Regions from separate parts of the Homo sapiens genome. Here regions 2 and 3 are each linked to region 1. Evidence: fine-mapped expression QTL. A gene starts in region 1. Each other region holds a variant in brackets. All regions are shown on one strand. Distances are between the middles of the regions. Region 1 holds the start of DNAAF1 (dynein axonemal assembly factor 1). Region 2 overlaps SLC38A8 (solute carrier family 38 member 8). Region 3 overlaps CDH13 (cadherin 13).

Region 1 (7,305 bases):
TGCTGGGATTACAGGCGTGAGCCACTGCACCTGGCAAAAATGTTTAAATATATACAAAAGTATGTAAAACCTATTATGCACAGTTCAAAGAATAATAAAACAGCCACTTAGCCACCAGCCTACTTAACAAAACCAGTGTCGTGGAAGTCCTGTATGCTGTTCCTCTGATTACAGCCCCTCCTCTATCCTGGAGGCAGCCTCTCTCCTAAATTCTGGGGTAGTCACTCCCTGACTCTTTTAACAAAACAGCTGTATACCCCAAGCATGTATTCTGAAACAGTAACAGTATTGCTGGCCGGGCGCGGTGGCTCACGCCTGTAATCCCAGCACTTTGGGAGGCCGAGGCGGGCGGATCACGAGGTCAGGAGATCGAGACCACGGTGAAACCCCGTCTCTACTAAAAATACAAAAAATTAGCCGGGCGCAGTGGTGGGCGCCTGTAGTCCCAGCTACTCGGGAGGCTGAGGCAGGAGAATGGCGTGAACCCGGAAGGCGGAGCTTGCAGTGAGCGGAGATCGCGCCACAGCACTCCCGCCTGGGCGACAGAACGAGACTCCGTCTCAAACAAAAAAAAAAACAGTATTGCTAAGTTTCGCCTGGTTTTGAACCTCACATAAAGGAACCACACCACATGGACCCTTTGGTGACTTGTTTCTTTCACTCAACATCATTCCCGAGACTCATCCATGCCCCTGCAGCTATATAGTCCATCCTCCTCGGCAGCTGCACAGTATCTCACGGTTCAGATGCACTGCAGTTCACAGGTCCCCCTGCTGCTGGTTCAGATACACCACGATTCACAGGTCCCCCTGCTGCTGGTTCAGATACACCACGATTCACAGGTCCCCCTGCTGCTGGTTCAGATACACCACGATTCACAGGTCCCCCTGCTGCTGGTGCTAGGCACGTGCACTGTTTCTGCTGGTTTTGATTTACAGTTAGGAACAGTGCTGCAGGGAGCGCTTGTCCCCATCTCCTGCACACCTGTGCAAGAGTTCGCAAAGGGATTTGCCCATGGTTTAACTGCTGGTCCACATGCATTCCACTGCCAAATGCTTTTGCAAAGCGGCAGAACCCATTCACACTCCCGCCAGCAGCAGGTTCGTGCCACTCCTCAATGTCACTGGCTGGTAGCGTCCAAAGCTTCACCTTCTGCCAACAGGGTGGCTGTGAAATGGTATCTCATTATGGTTTTAATTTACATTTCCCTGGTTACTAGTAAGGCTGCAGTCCTTTTTATATGTATGTGCTTTCTGTGTTTTGTAATCTATGAAATGCCCGTTCCTATCTTTTGTCCTTTCCTTTTTTTTCTCTCAGAATTGTAAGAATTCTTTAAATATTCTAGATACTAGCTCTCTGTATGTTTTGTGTCTCATTATAGTGTCTTTCATGAACTAAATGTGTTGTTATTATTATTGAGACAAGGTCTGGCTCTATTGCCCAGCCTGATGTGCAGTGGCATGATCACAGCTCACTGCAACCTCCGCCTTCCGGGCTCAAGCCATCCTCCCACCTCAGCATCTCAAGTAGCTGGGACACAGGCATGTACCACCAAGCCCAGTTAAATTTTTTTTGTGTGTGTAGAGATGAGGTTTCACCATGTTGCCCAGGCTGGTCTCAAACTCGTAAGCTCAAACCATTCACCTGCCTTGGCCTCCCAAAGTGCTGGGATTACAGGTGGGAGCCACTGCACCTGGCTGAATGTCTTAATTTTGAAAGAGACAAATATATCAATCTTTCTGCTTTAGGGTTTGTTTTATTTCAGAAATCCCTCCTTAGCCTCAGGTCATGAAGAAATTTTTTCGAATTATTTTCTAGAAATTTTACATTTTTGCTTTTTCAGTTTAAGTCTTTAATCCTCCTGGCGTTTTGTGATGGTGTGAGGCTGGGATCTCACACATCTTTTTTTTTTTTTTTTTTTTTTTGAGACAGAGTCTCACTCTGTCACCCAGGCTGGAGTGCAATGGCGCGATCTTAGCTCACTGCAACCTCCTCCTTCCAAGTTCAAGCAATTCTTCTGCCTCAGCCTCCCAAGTAACTGGGACTACAGGCGTGTGCCACCATGCCTGGCTAATTTTTGTATTTTTTTCTTTTTTAGTAGAGACGGGGGTTTCACCATATTGGCCAGGCTGGTCTTGAACTCCTGACCTTGTGATCCGCCCACTTTGGCCTCCCAAAGCACTGGGATGTGACCGGCCGGATCTCACACATCTTTAATATTCCTCCTCAGCACCTGACATGCTGCTGTAGACAACTTTATTTAATAAACAGAATCAAATACTGCTTTGTGTTCAAAGCTCAAATTTCACTCTTGAGAAAAAAACTTAAGCTTTTCATACTCTGCGTCAGCACTATGACAAAGTTAGCATTGGTGTATCAAGACTTTTTGGGATGTCTTTACCTTCACTGCCAATTTTTGGTATAGGACTAAACGCACAATGAAGCTGAGCCTAAAGAGCAGCAACATGGAATTAGAAACCTGGATTCTCATCCAAGATCCAACACTCTTCACCATCATGTCTGTATTTATGCAGTAAGAATTAAAATATTCAGAGTACCCCACTCCTAGGCAGATACCCAAGATAATTAGAAACTTTTGCTCACATAAAAACTCCTGCTTGCATGTTCACAGTGGCCTACTCACAACTGCCAGAAGGCAGAAACAAACAAAATGTCCATCAACAAATGAATGAATAAGCAAAATGTGGTGTTATCCACACAAAGGAGTATTATTCAGCCATAAAAAAGCATGAAGTACTGATACATACTACAACATGGATAAACTTTGAAAACATTATGCTAAAGGACAGAAACCAAATACAAAAGGCCGTATGTTGTATGTTTCCACTTGTATGAAATGTCCAGCATAAGCAAATCCATAGAGACAGAAGATAACTTAGGGCTGCTGAGGGACAGGGGGAGAAAAGAGGTATGACTGTTAATGGGGTTGGGGTTTCTTTTGTAGGTGATTAAATGTTCTGGAATTAGTTACTGGTGATGGTTGCATAGCATTGTGACTATAGCAAGAACTACTGAGTTATACACTGTAAAATGGCTAAAATGATAAATTTTATGTCATGCGTAAGTCATTTCGATTTTTGAAAACCTACTTTAAAAAAAAGTAGCACCAATATGTTCAACTCTGTTGCCCTAGAATATTCCAGCAGTGATTAAAACCACAAACTTGGCCGGGTACAGTGGCTCATGTCTGTAACCCCAGAACTTTGGGAGGCCAAGGCGGGCAGATCACTTGAGGCCAGGAGTTCAAGGCTACCCTGACCAACACAGCGAAACCCCGTCTCTACTAAAAAAAAAAAAAAAAAAATTAGCTGGGTGTGGTAGAACGTGCCTGTAATCCCAGCTACTCGGAAGGCTGAGGCAGGAGAATCACTTGGGCCCGGGGTGCGGGATGGCGGGCAGAGGTAGCAGGAGCTGAGATCGCAGGCACCATTGCACTACAGCCCGGGCGACAGAGCGAGATTGTCTGAATCAATCAATCAATCAACACCCTCCCCCTCCCCCTCCCTCTCCCTCTCCCTCCCTCCCTCTCTCTCTCTCTCTCTCTCCTGTGGCGGTCAGAGTAAAATTGAGAGCTCACTTTATGCAAAAGACTCTGCTAAGTGCTTTATTCCTATTGTCTCACTTTATTCTCTCATTAATCTTATAAAGCGCAGTCAGACTCTCCCGTTTATAGATGGGGAAATTGAGTCTTATAGATGTAAAGTCGCACACCCAAGACCCCACAACTCAGAAAGGGGCTACCTGCAATTCAGATGGAGGTATAGCAAGGCGCAGAGTCCTGTCCAGGGAGCCCACTGTGAGACCCCCCGACTGCCTCGCAGTCACCTGTACACATCATGTTGGGATCGCCGAGGGGCGCTGCAGCGATCCGGTTTCTGGGGCTGCGTCTGGGTGGCACGTTCAGAACGGGGACCTGCCTGGTTCTTCTTCCCAGCCCTTCCCCTCCAGCACCCGGCAAGGCCCAGTCAACACGAGCAAACTCGGAAATCCTGGCTGAACCCACGACCGCTGCATATTTCCATTTTAGAAAAACACGGCAACAACAACTCAAACCAAATCGTTCAGAAATGAGAATAAAGAAGCACCGACAAAGGAGGCGATTGCTGGGGCCGCTCGGGGGAGGAGCCGGGTGAGAGGCTGCAGGGAGGGCAGGGCATGCGCCGGCGACAACGGGGTTCGCGGTTTGGGGGGCAAGGCCCGGGGGAAGAGAGAGAACAGGGGTGCAGCGCCGCGGCGGGGGGCGTGAGGATGGAGCCGGGGGAAGGGGGGCTCTGAGATGTGAAGGGGCGGGGCTGGGGCTTTTTGGTCTGAAGGAAGGAGTCTCACGGGACGGAGGGACGAAGATTTCCTGGGGTCAGGGGCGCCAAGGGGCTTCGGGGCCGGATGCAGCGGAGGGGGCCCGGGGCCTGGGGGGCGTGGTGAGAGCTCAGAGGGGTCTCGCCAAGCAGCCGGCTGGCGCTGAGGGGACCGAGGAGGGGTCTGGGGCGAAAGGACCGCGAGAGGGCGCCCAGGGCGCGGGGGGCGCGGTACCTGCAGGCCGGCAAAGTCTTCCAAACCGGTCCCGCCAGACCCGCGCGGCCGCCGCCCCCGTCTCGGCCGCCGGAGCTGCTGCCGCGCCGCGCCCTCACGTGACCCGCGTACGCGCCGGGGGCGGAGCCGTCTCAGACCCGCCCCCACCCCCCGGCGTCCCCAGCGCGCCGGTCCGTCCCGAGTGCGCGTGCGCAGCGGTTGCCTGGGCGACCGGGGAAGCGTTGGGCTGTAAAGACTAGGGCGCCAGCGGCTGGCGAAGAAGGAAAGAGGGTACTCTCTGGCTGGGCTGGGGCCGTAGCGACGTCCGCCGCGAACCTGGGCCCCCCAAAGCTGCGGGGCGTTCGGTGTCGCCGAAGTAAACATGCACCCTGAGCCCTCGGAGCCTGCGACAGGTGGTGCAGCAGAGCTGGATTGCGCGCAGGAGCCCGGCGTGGAGGAGTCTGCGGGTGACCACGGGAGCGCAGGCCGAGGGGGCTGCAAGGAAGGTGCCGACTGCCCCCCAGGGAGGGCGGTGGGCGAGGGGCAGACACGGCTAGGCGCTCCAGCCCCCTTCCCACACCACATACCCGATCTTCACAGCCAAATAATAACAATAATAATAATGGTAGCAAGCAACGCTCTGCAGTAGGGGCTTCTCTCGCCATTTCGTACTGAGGAGGAAACATACTTAAGAGGTTACAAAACTTGCACCAAACAGATAACCCTCGGCTAGTCAGTGACAGAAGAGACTTGGCCGGGTGCGGTGGCTCAACGCCTGTAATTCCAGCACTTTGGGAGGCCGAGGCGGGCGGATCATCAGGTCAGTCAGGAGTTCGAGACCAGCCTGGCCAACATAGTGAAACCCTGTCTCTACTAAAAATACAAAAAATGAGCTGGGCGTGGTGGCGGGCGCCTGTAGTCTCAGCTACTTGGGAGGCTGAGGCAGGAGAATCGCTTGAACCCGGGAGGCGGAGGTTGCAGTGAGCCAAGATCTCGCCATTGCATTCCAGCCCGGACGACAGTGGGAGACTCCGTCTCAAACAAACAAACAAACAAACAAGCAAACAAAACCCACCAGACTCAGGCCCAGACAGTCTGGGTCTCCAGAGCCCCAGCCCTAACCCACCACGCTATTCTCCCTGGTCCCAACTTTGATGCTTTAAATGTGTCCCTTTATTGCTATCACTATGTAAGATCAAAGGCTTTCTCTCCCTCCAGACTGCATGTTGTGTCAGGGCAAGACATCTTGATTGAATTTGGAGTCTAGTCCAGTGCCTGACCTAGGGTAGAGAGTCCGAATGAAGACTTGGTTCTGGGGTCAGTGTGTGATCCCCTCACCAAAGTTTGCCAGAATGGACTTGAAAGATAACCTTCATGGCCAGGCACGGTGGCTCACGCCTGTAATCCCAGCAATTTGGGAGGCAGAGGCAGGTGGGTCACCTGAAGTCAGGAGTTCGAGACCAGTCTGGCCAACATATTGAAACCCTGTCTTTGCTAAAAACACAAAAATTAGCAGGGCGTGGTGACGTGCTCCTGTAATTCCACTTACTTGGGAGGCTAAGGCAGGAGAATTCCCTGAACCCCGGAGGCAGAGGTTGCAGTGAGCCAAGGGGGAGGCTGAGGCTGCAGTGAGCCAAGATCACACCACTGCACCCCAGCCTGGGCAATGGAGCAAGACTCCGTCTCAAAAAAAAAAAAGGAAAGAAGGAAGCCTGGCTTCAGCTTCTGCTCCCACTAGACTTGGTGCCCTAAAGGAAACCTTTTAGTGATTACATTAAAAAACCACTTGATTTGTGTTCCAGTTTCTGAACGCAGGCAACAAATAAACCAGCTGATTTGTGTTCCAGGCAACAAATATATCTTAAGCATCAACTGTCCAGATGAACCTTGTATGAGGAGCCATAGGGAACTGGCATTACTCAGTGGAAAGACACTGGTCTTGGAGCCATTGACACTGGGTTCAAGTTGAGGCTCAGCAGCTGGCCAGCTTTATGGCTGTTGGCCCAGAGCTTAACCTCTCGGAGCCTTAGTCTCCTCATCTGTAAGCTGGAATAATTATACAGGAGTATAAGGAGAGAATTATAATTAAATGTCCCAGCATATAGTGGGCCATTATTAAATGGTAGCTCTTGTTATTAATTACATATTAATATTTATATATTGAGCGCTTATTCTTTATTTTTTCCACAAACATTTATCTGTTGCTTCCTGTGGCTGGGCATTCTATGCAAAATTGATGAGTTTAAGAACCAGTCCCCACACGCACAGCCTTTAGTCTTGTTCAATAGACCACACAAACACAGAAAGCAGCAGACAACAGCTCTTAAAGTTAAGTGCGGTTGAATTGGCCAATTTTGAATGACCTTTAAAAAAATTATTCATTTGAATGTGCTCATGTTATTGTTATCATAGATATTCTCACTATTTTTGTTTCTTTTCATGTGATTTTCCTTTTTATGATTTTTTTTTTAAGAGATGGAATCTCACTATGTTACCCAGGCTAGATCTTCCTGCCTCAGCCTCCTGAGTAGCTGGGACTACAGGCATGCTCCACTACACCTGGCTTCAGAAATTTTTTAAAAGACAAAAGAACAAAGAACATTAAAACAAATACCCGTGTTTTGCCAGCAAGAATTGAAAATGAGTAACATTTTATCATATTTATTTGAAGTCTTTTTTAATTAAAGAAATAAGCCCCCCCCAAAAAAAAAATAAAAATAAATAAGGGTGGGCACGGTGGCTCACGCCTGTAATCCCAGCACTTTGGAAGGCCAA
Region 2 (7,259 bases), 120 kb before region 1:
ACTCCAGCTTCCAAAACCTTGTTCCTCAGTTCCGTCTGAAACCTCCTCAGAACAGACTTTACTATCCATATTTCCATGACTAACTAGAGTATCTAAGAAGTTCCAAATGTTCCCTAGTCTTGTCTCTAAGCCCTCACCAGAATCTAGGCTTATTCTAGCCTGCTCCTCCGAATTCTTCCAGCCTGCACTCATTGCCCAGCTCCAAAGCCGCTTCCACGTTCCAGGTAGTCAATCATCAACACCCCACTCTTGATACCAATTTTCTGTCTTAGTCCATTTTTTGTTGGTTACAACAGAATGCCTGAAATTGAGTAATTTATACAGAAAGGAAATTTTTTTACAGTTATGGAGATTGAGAAGTCCAGGATCAAGAGGCTACATCTGGGGAGAGCCTTCTTGCCGGAGGGGACTTTGCAGAGCCCTGAAGTGGCGCGCAGAGTGTCACATGGCAAGGGGGCTGAGTGTGTGAGCCCAGGTCTCTCTTCTTCTTCTTATAAAGCCACCAGCCCCACTCCCATGATAACCTATTAATCCACTAATCCATGAATAGATTAATCCATTCTTGAGGGCAGAGGCCTCATGCCCCAATCCCCTCTTGAAGGCCCCACGTCTCAATGCTACCACATCAGGGATTAAATTTCAACCTGAGTTTTTAAGAGGATAAATATTCAAACCATAACACACAGGAGTCCAAGGCTGCCTGAGAGATTCACTGCAGCCCAAGAGCTTCCTAGACTGGAGGATACGTTGGTGAATGAAAAAAGACTGGCGTCAAGTGGCCAACCAGAAGCCAGCCGTGCCAGGGACCTGGGACTGTCCTTCCAATGCACTGTACGATCCTGCGTGTCACAGCCCCTCTCTGAGCCACACTTTCATCACCTTTAAAGACCCTCTGCCTCCCACACACAGTTTGTGAGCACCTGAGTCCACTGCACCCACAAACGTTTTGTAAACCCTACCCAGATGTTACAGTGTAATGACGGACAGCAGTCAATGTCCTTTGAACAGCAGGCAGCAGGGCTGGGGTGTGGTGTGTCAGAGCACGGGCTTTGGAGACGGCTAGGCTGGAGTTCAGGTCTCAGCTTTGCAGATCTAGCTGTGAAACCTCGAACAAGTTCTGGAGGGCACCTGAGCCTCAGCTTCCTCATCTATGAAATGAGGCCTTTTCCTATGCACACTAAGGATTAAATAAGATGCTCAAAACATTGAGTATTGAGCCCAGCACGTGGTAAACTCTCTAGAGAGATACTCGCTGTTACTCTTGTTTCTACTGTCACTCCCCACCCTCTGCAGGGGTGCCTGGGAAGGGCCTTACCCGTCAGTGAATAGATGAGGCAGCAGGCCAGCAAGGACAGCACAGACACCAGGGCCCAGTGGGAGAGGCTCCGTTTGCGCATGCTGCAGTAGATGGAGACGGCAGCTTCGTGACACTGTAAGACAGAGGGCGGCTCAGCAGGATGCTGGCTTCCCCTGGAACAGGCGATGCGAAAAAAAACTCATATCCAAAAGGCGGGAAATGTGGGATATGATGAGGTTTCTCTTGAAATAGCCTGATCAATCCTTTATTCTTTAATTCACAGTACACCCCCAACCCCTCTTTCCTTTTCTCCTTCCTTTCTGCCTTTGTTACATGCCCAAACACGCCACAGTACCAGGCATTATCAATACAAGCTCGCATTCCTTTCCTTATTTTTTAAAAAACTAGCTCTCTAGCTCATTACAAACACCCACTGCCCCTTTCCCCTCTCTCCCTTACCTGCCCACCTTATCTAAAAAAAAGTTCAAATGTTCAACTGAGGCTAGTTTAGATTGTGCGGCCCAACCCCAGCCAATGGGAAAAGGGTACAGGAGCAGGACTTGCATCAGGAATAAAGGCTCTTGTACTCCTTTGCTCGGGTGTGCTCTGACCAAGAAAAAGCACCCCTCTGCACAAAAGTAAAATTACTTTGCTAAGAATCCTTTCAGTGTTCCGTTTTCTTAAGATTTTGAGCGTTATTCCCAACAGAACCCACATGCCCACCAAGAGCAGAGGGC[G/C]TAAGTAAATGGCAGGATACTAACACACAGAGCATGATGTGGCTCTGACAAAGAACCATGCACCTCAACACAGACGAATCTCAGTCAGAACAATGAACACCACAGGAAGCCACATAGGTGCCGGGCACGCTGGCTCGCACCTGTCACCCCAGCACTTTGGGAGGCCGAAGGGGGCAGATCACTTGAGGTCAGGAGTTTGAGACCAGCCTGGCCAACATGGCAAAATTCCATCTCTACTTAAAATACAAAAATTAGCCGGGCATGGTAATGAGCACCTGTAATCCCAGCTACTCAGGAAGCTGAGGCAGGTGAATCACTGGAATTCGGGAGGCGGAGGTTGCAGTGAGCCAAGATCGTGCCACTGCACTCCAGCCTGAAAGACACAGTGACACTGTGTCTCAAAAGAAAAACAAGCCGGGCAGCAGAGAATGTTTCCGTTAATGGATGCGAAGTCCAAGTTACAAGATAAACACTTCTACACCAGGGTTTCTCAGCCTTGACACGATTGATGTCTGGTGTGGGTTAACTCTTGGCAGCCGCCCTGTGTGTTTGGGGTGGGGGTGTTGTGCAGTGTCCCTGGCCGGGACCTACTACATGCCAGTAACAGCCCCCCTCCCCCAAGTTGTGACAACCCAAAATGTCTGCAGACATGGTCAAATGTTCCCTGGGGGTATAACCAACCCACGCAAACCCCACTCTGTGGTGCTAGAAGGCAGGATGGTGGTTTGGGTAGGGTGGGTGCTACTGACCAGAAAAGGTCATGAAGGGGTTCCCGGGGGCTTGACCATGTCACATGGGTGCACACATACTTAGAATCTACATACTGTATATGTGACATGCCATATTGGGGTAAGCATTTTTTTTTGGTAGAGATGACTTCTTACTACATTGCCCAGGCTGGTCTCAAACTCCTGAGTTCAAGCGACCCTCCTGCTTTGGCCTCCCTAAGTGCTGAGATTACAAGTACGAGCCACCATGCCCAAGGGGGATAAGAATTTTAAACGCAGGAGGGAGCGGTGGCTCACGCCTGTAATCCCAGCACTTTGGGAGGCCAAGGCGTGTGGATCACCTGAGGTCTGGAGTTCGAGACCAGCCTGGCCAACATGGTGAAACCCCGTCTCTACTAAAAGTATAAAAATTAGTCAGGTGTGGTGGCAAGCACCTGTAATCCTAGTTACTTGGGAGGCTAAGGCAGGAGAGTCGCTCAAGCCTGGGAGGCAGAGTCTCGCTCTGTCACCCAGAATGGACTGAAGTGGCGCGAACTTGGCTCGCCGCAACCTCCGCCTCCCGGGCTTAAGCGACTCTCCTGCCTCAGCCTTCCGAGTAGCTGGGATTACAGGCACGCCCAGCTAATTTTTTATATTTTTGGTAGAGACAGGGTTTCACCATGTTGTCCAGGCTGGTCTCATACTCCTGACCTCAAGTGATCCTCCCACCTCGGCCTCGCAAAGTGCTGGGATTACAGGCGTGAGCCACCAAGCCCAGTGCAAGAATTTTTTTAACGCAAAACATACACAGTCAATGCCAAGAGCCCATGAGTCATGTGAATTCATTTCCCTGGGTGGGTCGTGGACATTGGTGATTCACGAACAGCCAAGAGAATACTGATGTACAGCCAGGGCTGGGCAGGGAGGCTCTGCTCTGTCCAGACACACCGGGCGGGGATGCTTTTTCCGGACACACTGGTGGGTTCAGGGTTCTTCCCAGGCTCCTGGGGCTGGTTCCCACCATCACACCCACTCTCTCACTCCTGGCCAAAACCAAACGTGCCAAGGCCTCATTCCTGCCCGCCCTGTAGGGACCCTACGCAGGAAGCTCAGATCAGCTAGGTCTTCCCTCCGCGCCTCAGGGCCTTTGCTACTGCTGGTCCCTCTGGCCGGATTTTCTCCGAGTCCAGCCAACTCCTCTGCACCCTCCTGGGGAGCCCTCCCGAGTGGGCTGGTTTCCTCTCTCACACAGCCCGTGTCCTCAACACGAGCGGGCTTTTCGGTTTGTCTACTCAGCGTCTCTCAACCACACGACAACAACGACCAAGTCTGCGTTGCTCAGGGCTCTGAGCTTGGGCCAGGATCGGAGCCTGCACCGAGCTGAATAAACACTACAGGGCTTACCCACCTACCCATCCCGTGAACCCACCCAGCAGCCACCAGGCCTCCCTCCACCCAGCCTCGCTCTGTCACTCATGAGTCCTCCTCGGTGCAAGTGAGCCAAGCCAAGGAAACAAGCCCAGCACAGCTGTCCTCTCACCCCCAGGACACATTCTGGAAATATAGGAGGGCACAGTGGCCTCCTCCCTCCGGCTTCCAGCCCTAGTTGAGCACAGCCCTTCCGCTGGCGCGTTGACCTCAGGCACCGCGCACCCCTGCTCTCTGGCCCCAGGTTTCCTGTCCTACAGGAGGGCTCTGCCAGCAGGGGGGACGCAACCCCTCTGCCTCCTGCACCCCCGCAGCACTTGTGGGGCTCACCCCACACTCTCAGGTCAGCCCTGTGGTCCTAGAGCCCCAGTGCCCACAATGGGGACCTCCGTGCACCAGCACCTCAGCCCCATGGCAGGCTCTGCCTTCAGGGCACGGCAGATGCCCCGAGGTGGGGAGTCCCCGAACGGCAGCTCTGCGTATAGGGGCACAGCTGAGTCCAATATAAGGGAAAAGACAGTTAGTAGTGCCAGACAGGTTGGTGGGCAGGAGGGTGCCTCCTTTTCTCCCTGTTTGACTCCGCAGTTGGGTTTCTACTGGTGTTTTGTTTTGTTTTTTTGAGACAGAGTCTCGCTCCATCGCCCAGGCTGGAGTACAGTTGCATGATCTTGGCTCACTGCAACCTCCACATCCTGGGTTCAAGGGATTCTGATTCAGCCTCCCAAGTAGCTGGGATTACAGGCCCGCACCGCCATGCCCGGCTAATTTTTGTATTTTTAGTGAAGATGGGGTTTCACCATGTTGGCCAGGCTGGTCTTGAACTCCTGACCTCAGGTGATCCACCCGCCTCGGCCTCTTAAATTCCTGGGGTTACAGGCATGAGCCACCGTGCCCAGCCTCTACTGGTTTTATAAGGGGAAGCAGAGCAGGCCTGCTGAGGGCAGGCAGTACCCAGGAGGTGGTGGCAGTGGGCAGTTGCTCGGTGATGGAAGGAGACAGGAAGACGACACAGTGGCCAAAAAGTGGACCCCACCCAGATGCCCATCAAAGGACAGGGGATAAAGCGCAGCTTATCCACACAATGGAATATTATTTGACCACAGATAGGGTGGCTACAACATGGATGAATCCCACCAACACGGCGGGGGAGGGAAGCCTGTCTTAAAAGGCCACAATAGGATTCCATTCCTAGGAGGTGGCCATCGTAGGCAAATCCAGACAGACAAGAAGTGCAAGAGCTGCGGGCAGAGGTGGAGAATGGAGAGTGACTGACGGCGATGGGTTTCTTCGAGGGGCAACAGAAAGGTTCTCAATTGACTGTGGTGATGGTTGCACAGCTCTGACTGTACTAAAATCCATTGCACTGCACACTTCAGAAGGGTGAATGGCACGGTATATGCATCCTATCTCAATAAAGATATTTTTTAAAACCACAAAAACCAGCCAGGCACAGTGGCTCACGCCTGTAATCCCAGCACTTTGGGAGGCTGAGGTGGGCAGATCAAAAGGTTAAGAGATCGAGACCAGCCTGGCCAACGTGTTGAAACCTCGTCTCTACTAAAAATACAAAAATTAGCTGGACGTGGTGACAGGCGCCTGTAATCCCAGCTACTCAAGAGGCTGAGGCAGGAGAATCGCTTGAACCCAGGAGGCGGAGGCTGCAGTGAGCCAAGATCACACCACTGCACTCCAGCCTGGGCGACAGAGCAAGTCTGCCACAAAAGCAAAATTAAAACAAACAAACAAACAAACAAACAAACACACACTAGAAGTCCTGGTGTAGCCGCATTGGCTGGGAGTGGACACAACCCCTCTGCTCCTGAGGCCCCTCTCACTGACTGGACAGGCCTGGGGCGGGGGTGCCCCATTGCCAAATGTGTTTGGGCGGGGACGCTGTGTTTGAGTCAGGTCAGAGTTCCTGATGACAGTATGTGACCGTCCCTTTCCTGCAGCCCTCTCCAGCCTTACCCCCTTTTCCCAGCACCTTCAGTTACATTTATTCTCCCCCGCTTCAGATCCTGGCAGCCCCCACCTCTAGCCTGAGCCCCTACTCCCACTCCTTCAGTTCCTATCCTTCCCAGCTCTTCATCTCGGCATCCCGTGTCCCTGGAAACGCAGCCCAGGCCTCGTTGCTAGGAGAATCCGGTGAGGGCTGGAGGCAAAGGTGAGGGGCACCCCTTGCAAGCATCGGGGAGGCGGCCCCGGCGTAGGTCTGCTGCACCATATGGCGCTTGGGCACAGAGAGAGGTTCTTAAACTCAGTCCAGACAAACAGTTGACAGCAAAATCAGCTCTTCAGATCTTTCAAAATATTGGGCGTGCAGGAAGCAATGTGAGAAATCCACAGAAGTGGCTTGCTGAGGCCCTGAAGCAGCACGCCGACTGATTACGAGGAAGAGAAATGGAAATGTTTCAAGATTTTTTTTTTTTTTTTCCTAAAAAGGGTTCTCAAAGAAAAGGCAAGATGAAGAACAGAAGCAGAGCTCACTGATGGTCAAGGGAAGAGACGAGCTCAATGGCTACAAAGCTGAGATCCGGTGGTAAACCCTGGACACATCTCCCTGTGGACTTGATTTTACTTTGGAATGGTTTTGTTGGTGCTGGTGGTAGGCAGTGGATAGGTGGTTGTTTTTAGGACATCGAGGCAAATCTTCCCGAAAATAAGCAGCGTGGCCAGGCACGGTGGCTCACGCCTATAATCCTAGCACTGTGGGAGGCCGAGGAGGGCAGATCGCTTGACGTCAGGAGTTCAAGACCAGCCTGGCCAACATAGTGAAACTCCCTCTGTACTAAAAATACCAAAAAAAATTAGCCAGGCATGGTGGTGCACGCCTGTAGTCCCAGCTACTCAGGAGGCTTGAACCCAGGAGGTGCAGTGCAGTGAGCTGAGATCCACTACACTCCAGCCTGGGCAATAAGAATGAGACTCCAACTCAAAAAAAGAAAAAAAAAAAAAGAAAGAAATGGAAGAGCAGTGTCTGCTTCCACCTGCTAGGAGGGCTGCGGGAACCCATGACAGCCCAGAAGCAGAGGACTGAGCCCAGGCCCGCCACCTCCCCTGCCCCCCCTGCCCCGCCACCTTCCCCCCAGC
Region 3 (7,309 bases), 790 kb before region 1:
TCATTCCTGGATGAAGGAAGATCAGCAGAACATAATGGTCTTTGACTTTGCAGATCGTGAGCTGTTGCTTTTGCAGAGCCACAGACATTGATTTATGAGGCCCAAGCCAAGGCTCTGGCTGCTCCTTGGGGGCATACAGATCTCTGTGTGAGTTTGGTGTTTTCTGATGGCCAAGACATGGTGTTCATGAGTAGGGGGTAGAGGGTGAGAACTCTTGAAATTCCTGGAGGGCACTAATTCCAAGGCCCCATCATGTCTTGTTGGCATCAATTCATGGGTGTTTTGCCCTCTGGTGGTTTCCTGGGCACCTTTGAGAATGGCTGACCATGAGGAATGGCATGTCAGGCTCCCACAGAAGCAGGCCCTGAGATGAAGATTGAGGCCTGCCTGTGGTTTGCTTGAGAGGTACAGGGACAGATACCAGGTAAGGTGAGGTACAGAAAAGGAAGTCAGACAACTTGAGGTGCATTATTATTATTATTATTATTATTATTATCACTATTGAGACGGAGTTTTGCTCTTGTTGCCCAGGCTGGAGTGCAATAGTATGATCTCAGCTCACTGCAACCTGTGCCTCCTGCATTCAAGCAATTCTCCTGCCTCAGCCTCCCGAGTAGCTGGGATTACAGACACCTGCCACCACGCCCAGCTAATTTTTGTATTTTTAGTAGAGATGGGGTTTCACCACATTGGCCAGGCTGGTCTTGAACTCCTGACCTCAGGTTATCCGCCCACCTTGGCCTCCCAAATGCTGGGATTACAGGTGTGAGTCACTGCACCTGGCCCTTGAGGTGCATTATTAAAGCAGCTCCCAGAGTGGGTAACTGCAGCTTTATCCTTTTTGGGGAGCTCAAGGAAATGACATTAAACACATACGTTAGAGTTATCTCAGCTAAGGGGCAGGTAGCTAGAATATCTACTCCCCCAAGTCTGATAATGAGACATAGGTTCAAAGCTGTCCCCAAGGATGGGGGGCTTTAATTTCCAGGCACTTGCCGCCAGCTGTGCGCAAGGGAAACCTGGGATCCATCAGCTCCAATATCCTGTCCTCTTGAGGCCTCGGCCTTCCAACAACATCAGGAGCTGGCTGTAGGTTGTGTTCGCTCTCCTGGCTTTTAGCCACCCCAAATGGCAGCCAGGGCAGCTGGGAGAATGGCAGCCCCCCACCCTGGACGGGTGGGGCAGCTTTGAGAAAGATAGGTGGTGAGAGGTCACAGAAGGAAAGAATTAGCTCCCAAACTGCATGACTGACAAAGATGAATGTGGCATTTACCTAAAGGTGCACGTTCTGTGTCCTGAAAGATGCACATTGCTTAGGCATGTCTGATCCTTCTTCTTGAGGCTGTTGAAGACAAGCAGAGATTAGCAGTTACGTCCTCATTGTCTAACTTCTGAAAGCCCAGCCACTTTCCCTCCCTCTCTTTCCTGTCTTAGTCCCTTTAATTTTTTTTTCCATCCAGTATGCTTAGCAAGCATCTACTCTGTGCTGGCGCTATTCTAAGCTCTGAATGTGCAACACTGGACCTGGCAGGTGCTGCTTGTTCCCTCCTGGTATTCATAGCTGAGGAGGGAGGATAGCATCCAATAAATCAGAAAGAAAATTGCGGCAAGTGCTACAACATAGTTGTATGGGAGGCTCATCTCGGGAGGGGCCAAACCTAGTCTTGTAGTGAGATAGGAGGCCGCTCTGAAGAGATGATGTAGGGAGTTTTTGTCTTTTATTTTTCCTCCAGGATCCACCTGAGTTCCTTTTCAAGACACAGTTCCTTTAATTTTTAAACACATCCAGCCATTCCAGACATAAGAAAAAGCCAGCCGATCAAGTCGCCTTTGGGACTAATGGCTATCCTGAGAGCTCAGCTTTGCTTGGAAGTTGCTATTTTCCAAAACAGCTTGAGCTAAATAAAGATGGCTGGGATAGTTGATAGTTGATATTTGACACCTAGCTCAGCCGATGGTGTTCAGGTTGTTGCTATGGCCTGGTAGTAAAGTCCCTTTTCTGGTTACTTTTTACTTGTTGCAGTAACTGTGATGTGGCTTTTCAACCCATTGACTGTTAATTTTTTTTTGCTGATATTTTCAGACTTTCATGCTGTAGGTTCCTCCATTCTCAACTGCCCCAACCAATCCTATGTGTTTCTGGAATATCAGGCATGTGGCTATTTCTTTTTTTTTTTTTTTTCCTTAGGTAGATATATTTTTTAAAAAATAAATAAAGCAATTCTGTTCTTTTCAAGTGAAAGAAAATGCAGTCACTCTCCAGTGCCACCATCCAGAGATAACCACAGTTGACATTTTAGTGAGTGCAGTTCTGGGGTTCTCTCCTGGCATCTCTACACAGAGAGATGCAGGTGCACAGTTTTACAGAATGGGAGCTCTATGTGCTTTTCCGTAAATCTCTCTCTTCACTCCTCAGGGTCCTATGGACATTTTTGTAAATCAATAAACATCAAGCAACATCATTGTTTCAAACAGCTAGAGTCTGGATCTACCATCGTCTCCTTAACCAATTTCCTATCGATTTAAGTTGTTTTCACTTTTCTACACTTCCATCAATTCTGCAGAAGAGAGCTCATCTCTTCCCATGTTTGTGACAATTTCTATAGGATATATTTACATGAGCTGGATTAATGGGATGGCGGATATGCCCTGTTATGTTTTGATCCCTATTCAGGTGATGCTTCTAATCAGAGGATTTTAGTCTGTATCTTGGCTAAGCTTGTTCATGCAGCAGGATACAATAGTCTTTCTTTTCACACACAAACATACTGATGGATATTTTTGTTTGTTTCTCCAGATGACACTCAGTATCTACAAGTTTTTGTGGTCATTTCACTAGCTGTTTTGTAGATAGTGGATGGCCTTGCTATGGAATCCTTGCTGGATATTGTGGTGGAGGCAGAGGAATGCAGTGGTTGAGACTGGCCCCTTTCCTTAGGTCATCACTGGAATTTTAGTGAAGAAGTGCTGCCCAGGGATGGCATCATTAACATGCTGCAGAGCCCTTGAGCTTGGAGGAGACAGCACTTGAGTTATGGTACAATTCACTGTAAATGTGTTTTATGGTCGCCTAAAATGTGTTTAGGTGACCATAAAACACGTTTTATGAAAGAGTTGCATAATCCAATCAGAGACCATTTCCCAAAAGGAAAATTCACAGCTAAATGGAATGAAAAGTATTATCTGAACTTCACTAGCTATTGACTCCACCTAGTCGTTCAAGAGGAAAGCGAATGCTTATACATTGTTAGTGGAAATGTAAACAAATACAACTGTATGGAAAGGAGGATGGATAGTTCTCAAAAAACTTAGAATAGAACTACCATTTAATCCAGCAATCCTGCTACTACTGGGCGTCTACACAAAGGAAAAGAAGCCACTGTATCAAAAAAACACCTGCACTCATGGTTATCACTACGTATATTCATCACCACACCATACATACATACACACACACAATGGAATACTATTCAGCCATATAAAAGTATAAAATCAGCCGGGTGCGGTGGCTCACGCCTATAATCCCAGCACTTAGGGAGGG[T/C]GAGGCAGGTGGATCACGAGGTCAGGAGATCGAGACCATCCTGGCTAACACGGTGAAACCCCGTCTCTACTAAAAATACAAAAAATTAGCCAGGTGCTGTGGCAGGCACCTGTAGTCCCAGCTACTCAAGATGCTGAGGTGGGAGAATGGCATGAACCCGGGAGGCGGAGTGTACAGTGAACCGAGATCGTGACACTGCACTCCAGCCTGGGCGATAGAGCGAGACTCCGTCTCAAAAAAATAAATAAATAAATAAAGTATAAAATCATGGCTTTGGCAACAATGTGGATGCCATTATCTTTGGTGAAATAACTCAGAAAGTCAAATACTGCATGCTCTCACTTATAAGTCAGAGCTAAATCATGTGTACACATGGACATAGAGTGTGGAATAATAGACTTTGGAGACTCAGAAGGGTGGAAGCGTGGCAAGGGTGTAACGTGTGAGAAATTGCTTAATGAGTACAATATATGTTACTCAGGTGATAGTTACACTAAAAGCCAAGACGTCAGCACTCTGCCACATGTCCGTGTAACGAAACTGCACTTGTACTGTTAAATCTATACAAATAAAAAAGAAACTGAATCTTTGCCAAGTTGCTCCTAACTATGTCTGAAGGTCCTCTGGTGATATCTCACACCGGCTCAGAACCAAGACAGTCGGCTCCCTTGTCATAGCCATTGGGATTTCCCTCCTCCATATCCCAGGCCCCCACCCTGATGGGCACCATTGCACATGTCAGGCCCGCCCTGATGGGCACCATTGCACATGTTAGGACCCTTGGCTGCTGGCTCATGGGAGCTGGATACCAAAGCATCTGCTGGGACAGGAGAGAATGCCTGAACCCCTTTATTCTGGTAGAAGAGTATCTAACCAACCAACAGAACTGTATGTTTCTTCTTTAATGTGAATAACTGTGAAAACAACTCTTTTCATTTTTATTTATAGCTCTCTCTCCCCCTAAATTCACACATGCATCTCTGGGGCTGGAGATCAGCTCAAGAGATGGACACCCCATTGTTTCCTGAAACACTCTCCTCTCTAACCATGAAGTCTTATTCCTGGACTAGCCTATGTATCTGCCTCTCCTCTGCCCATCACCCATGCTCATATCATTCACATTAGACCTTTGTATTCTGGGTGAACTGGGGAGATGTGGCCCTTGGGTTCACTTTGATTACTTCCTTGTAAAAATAAACGCTTAATAGCCCTGCCCACTAATTTTTTGGATATGATATTTTAGGCCCAAGCCGGGAGTCATCCTTCCATCACTCTATATTTGGAAGAGGGAAGGATTTGTGGCATCAAATATTTAAAAATAAAAGTAAAAATATTAAAATTAATTGAGTAACTTAATTAAAATAATAGTTTAAAGTGGCAGCAGGGCAAAGGAGCATTTGTAGCTTCAGAAATGTAGTGATCATTCTACAGTCTTTTGAAAAGATAAACCTGACAGGAATTTCTAGCGAAAATGAAAATTGGTGACGGTTGAGCAGCTGCAAAGCAAAAGTGAAAAAGTCCTTGAGTTGTCCTAGCACAGAACGTGCTCACCAGCGCCGTTGGATCCTATCCCTGATACCAAAGGATCCACTGTGAATAGCCCAGCAATTTTTAGCACTGCAGCTGAGTAAAACAGAGTGGCAGATCCAAATGTCATTAAACATTTATAATTTCGGGGAAACCCTTATTTCAAATCAATTCTTCATAACCATTTCCTCAGTAAATTCATTCAACAAGTATTTATCGGGCAGTTTCTATGAGTCAGATAATATTATAGGGGCTGGGGATATAGCAGTGACCAAGACCATTTAGAACTCTATTCTTAAGACATTGCCACCTTCCTGGGAGGAGAAAGGTGCCAACAGAAATGGATAAGCCAGATAATTTAAGTTTCGGATAAAATAAAACAAGGTACATTGTTTTATTGACATAAGGTCAAGAAAAGTCCTCTCTAAAGAGGTGATGTTGAAGCTGAGCCCAGTGAAATAAAGGAGCCTACCAAGTAAAGGCATGGAGAAAGGATGTTCCAGACGCAGGGGCCAGGAAGTGCAGAGACCTGAGGCAGGAATGACCTGAGGGACGGTAGTACCAGGTGAGACAGGGAGATGGGCAAGGGCAAGGGCAAGATCGTTCTGAGCATGAGTCAACAAACTATGGGCCATGGGCCAAATGTGTCTCTCTGCCTGTTGTTTTTTAAATAAAGTTTTATTAGAATACACATGTGCCCCTTCATTCATGTATTGACTATGGCTGCTTTCGCACCATATTGGTAGAATTGGGTAGCGGGGACACAGACTGTATATTCCACAGAGGCAAAAGTATGTAATACCTGATCCTCTGCAAATAAAAAGTTTGCAGACCCCTGGCTTAGAACTCCATACATTTTGATTACATTTTAAACTTAGTAGGAAGCCCTTGGGTGGTTTTAAGCGAGGAAATAGATATGATTTTACTGCTGAAAAATGACTTGTGCTATTCTGTGGAGAGAGAAATAGGGAAACAAGGCATTTCAATGTTCTAGGCATGAGAAAACCATGGCAGCTACGGAGATGGAGAGAAGAGATCACATAAAATTTTTACAGCAAGTGTGTGACAAATCGGAAAATTCTAAATATTGAGTCATTTTATGATGCCAGCTTATTATAACTGATGCCATCTATGTGGAATTACAATAATACTGTAAGCCTTAATAGGTTTATAAATTTTCTGCAAGTATAAACCAGAATCTACCTTCAGTTCTCTTTCTCAGCAACACAGTTAAGACCAGGAGAACTGAATGGTTTTCTCTTCATCCTTCAACTTCCAACATTTAGCAGAGTCCCAGGCACAAATTATCCACCCAATAAATTCCACTGGATGAACAAATGGCTCCAAAGGCCAGAAAGCCTGAATCCCGATAAACTGTTTTTTAATTCAATTTTTAAATAAATGGTTGTATTTATTGAAAATGTATTCATTCTTTCAACAAATACCTTTAGAGTACCTGCCGTATACCAGGTATGCTGTTTAATGAGGATGGGGTTGGAGGGGGTGAATGCATGAAACAGAATGGATGCTGACTCTGTAGAGCTTGCAGACGAAAGAGGAAGTCAGTAAATAAAGCATCACTGTTACACAGGGGAACGTCAGTTTTCAACTGCTACACAGGGGAGCATCTCTCTAGGATTAAGGGAGGGAGATGATGCCTGTCCCAGGGTAACACAGCAGTGGTAATCAGCTGTATATTTTTCTAGCACTATTATGTACTGGATACTGGTCCAGGTTCCACACCTACCTTTTAAAGCAGTCCTTACAAACGTTTGACAATTGAGGAAACAGACACTCAGGGAGGTTAGGTGACTCCGCCGTGGTCACACAGCTGGTGGGTGATGAAGCTCAGATCGAAACTCAGACCTGTATGACTCTAATTCTTGTGCTTTTTCATTTCATCCCCATCCACAACACCCACTGTCCTTTAACTATTTCACCCGTGATGATGTTGCAAGTAATTCCAAAGTTGCTACCTTAAATGTAAGAGAGCATTTTCTTACACAGATGAGTGAGTTTATTTATTTTCATGTGTGTGTGTGTGTGTGTGTGTGTGTGTGTGTGTGTGTGTGTGTGTGTGTGTAGATGAGAAAGAGAAAGAGAAAACCACCAACCTTCCTTAGTCATTTTATAGTAGCCCAGCTTGCCAGGTAACTCCACGCAGCCCATCCTTACTGGTGGTAACCTCAAATAAAGCCAGATTCTCCCCCTAGCGGTAGTTTGAGAGATGCTCAACAACTC

The links.
Region 2: its variant is fine-mapped to the expression of DNAAF1 in left ventricle (GTEx, PIP 0.97).
Region 3: its variant is fine-mapped to the expression of DNAAF1 in testis (GTEx, PIP 0.91).

The regions. Positions count from the first base shown.
Region 1 is chr16:84,140,529-84,147,833 of GRCh38, forward strand. It overlaps DNAAF1 (dynein axonemal assembly factor 1), which reads left to right and starts at 4,780. Exons shown (of 12, transcript NM_178452.6): 1 at 4,780-5,036. The coding sequence starts at 4,913. HSDL1 (hydroxysteroid dehydrogenase like 1) reads right to left here and starts at 4,649. Exons shown (of 6, transcript NM_031463.5): 1 at 4,552-4,649. RefSeq lists silencers at 4,074-4,123, 4,174-4,223, 4,384-4,833.
Region 2 is chr16:84,021,460-84,028,718 of GRCh38, forward strand. It overlaps SLC38A8 (solute carrier family 38 member 8), which reads right to left. Exons shown (of 11, transcript NM_001080442.3): 7 at 1,316-1,430. Among named protein-coding and RNA genes, the nearest start is that of SLC38A8, 18 kb to the right of the region's middle. RefSeq lists an enhancer at 5,665-6,166. The variant G/C (reference allele first, on the strand shown) is at 2,035.
Region 3 is chr16:83,349,115-83,356,423 of GRCh38, forward strand. The region is part of intron 6 of CDH13 (cadherin 13); the gene reads left to right. Among named protein-coding and RNA genes, the nearest start is that of CDH13-AS1, 47 kb to the right of the region's middle. The variant T/C (reference allele first, on the strand shown) is at 3,542.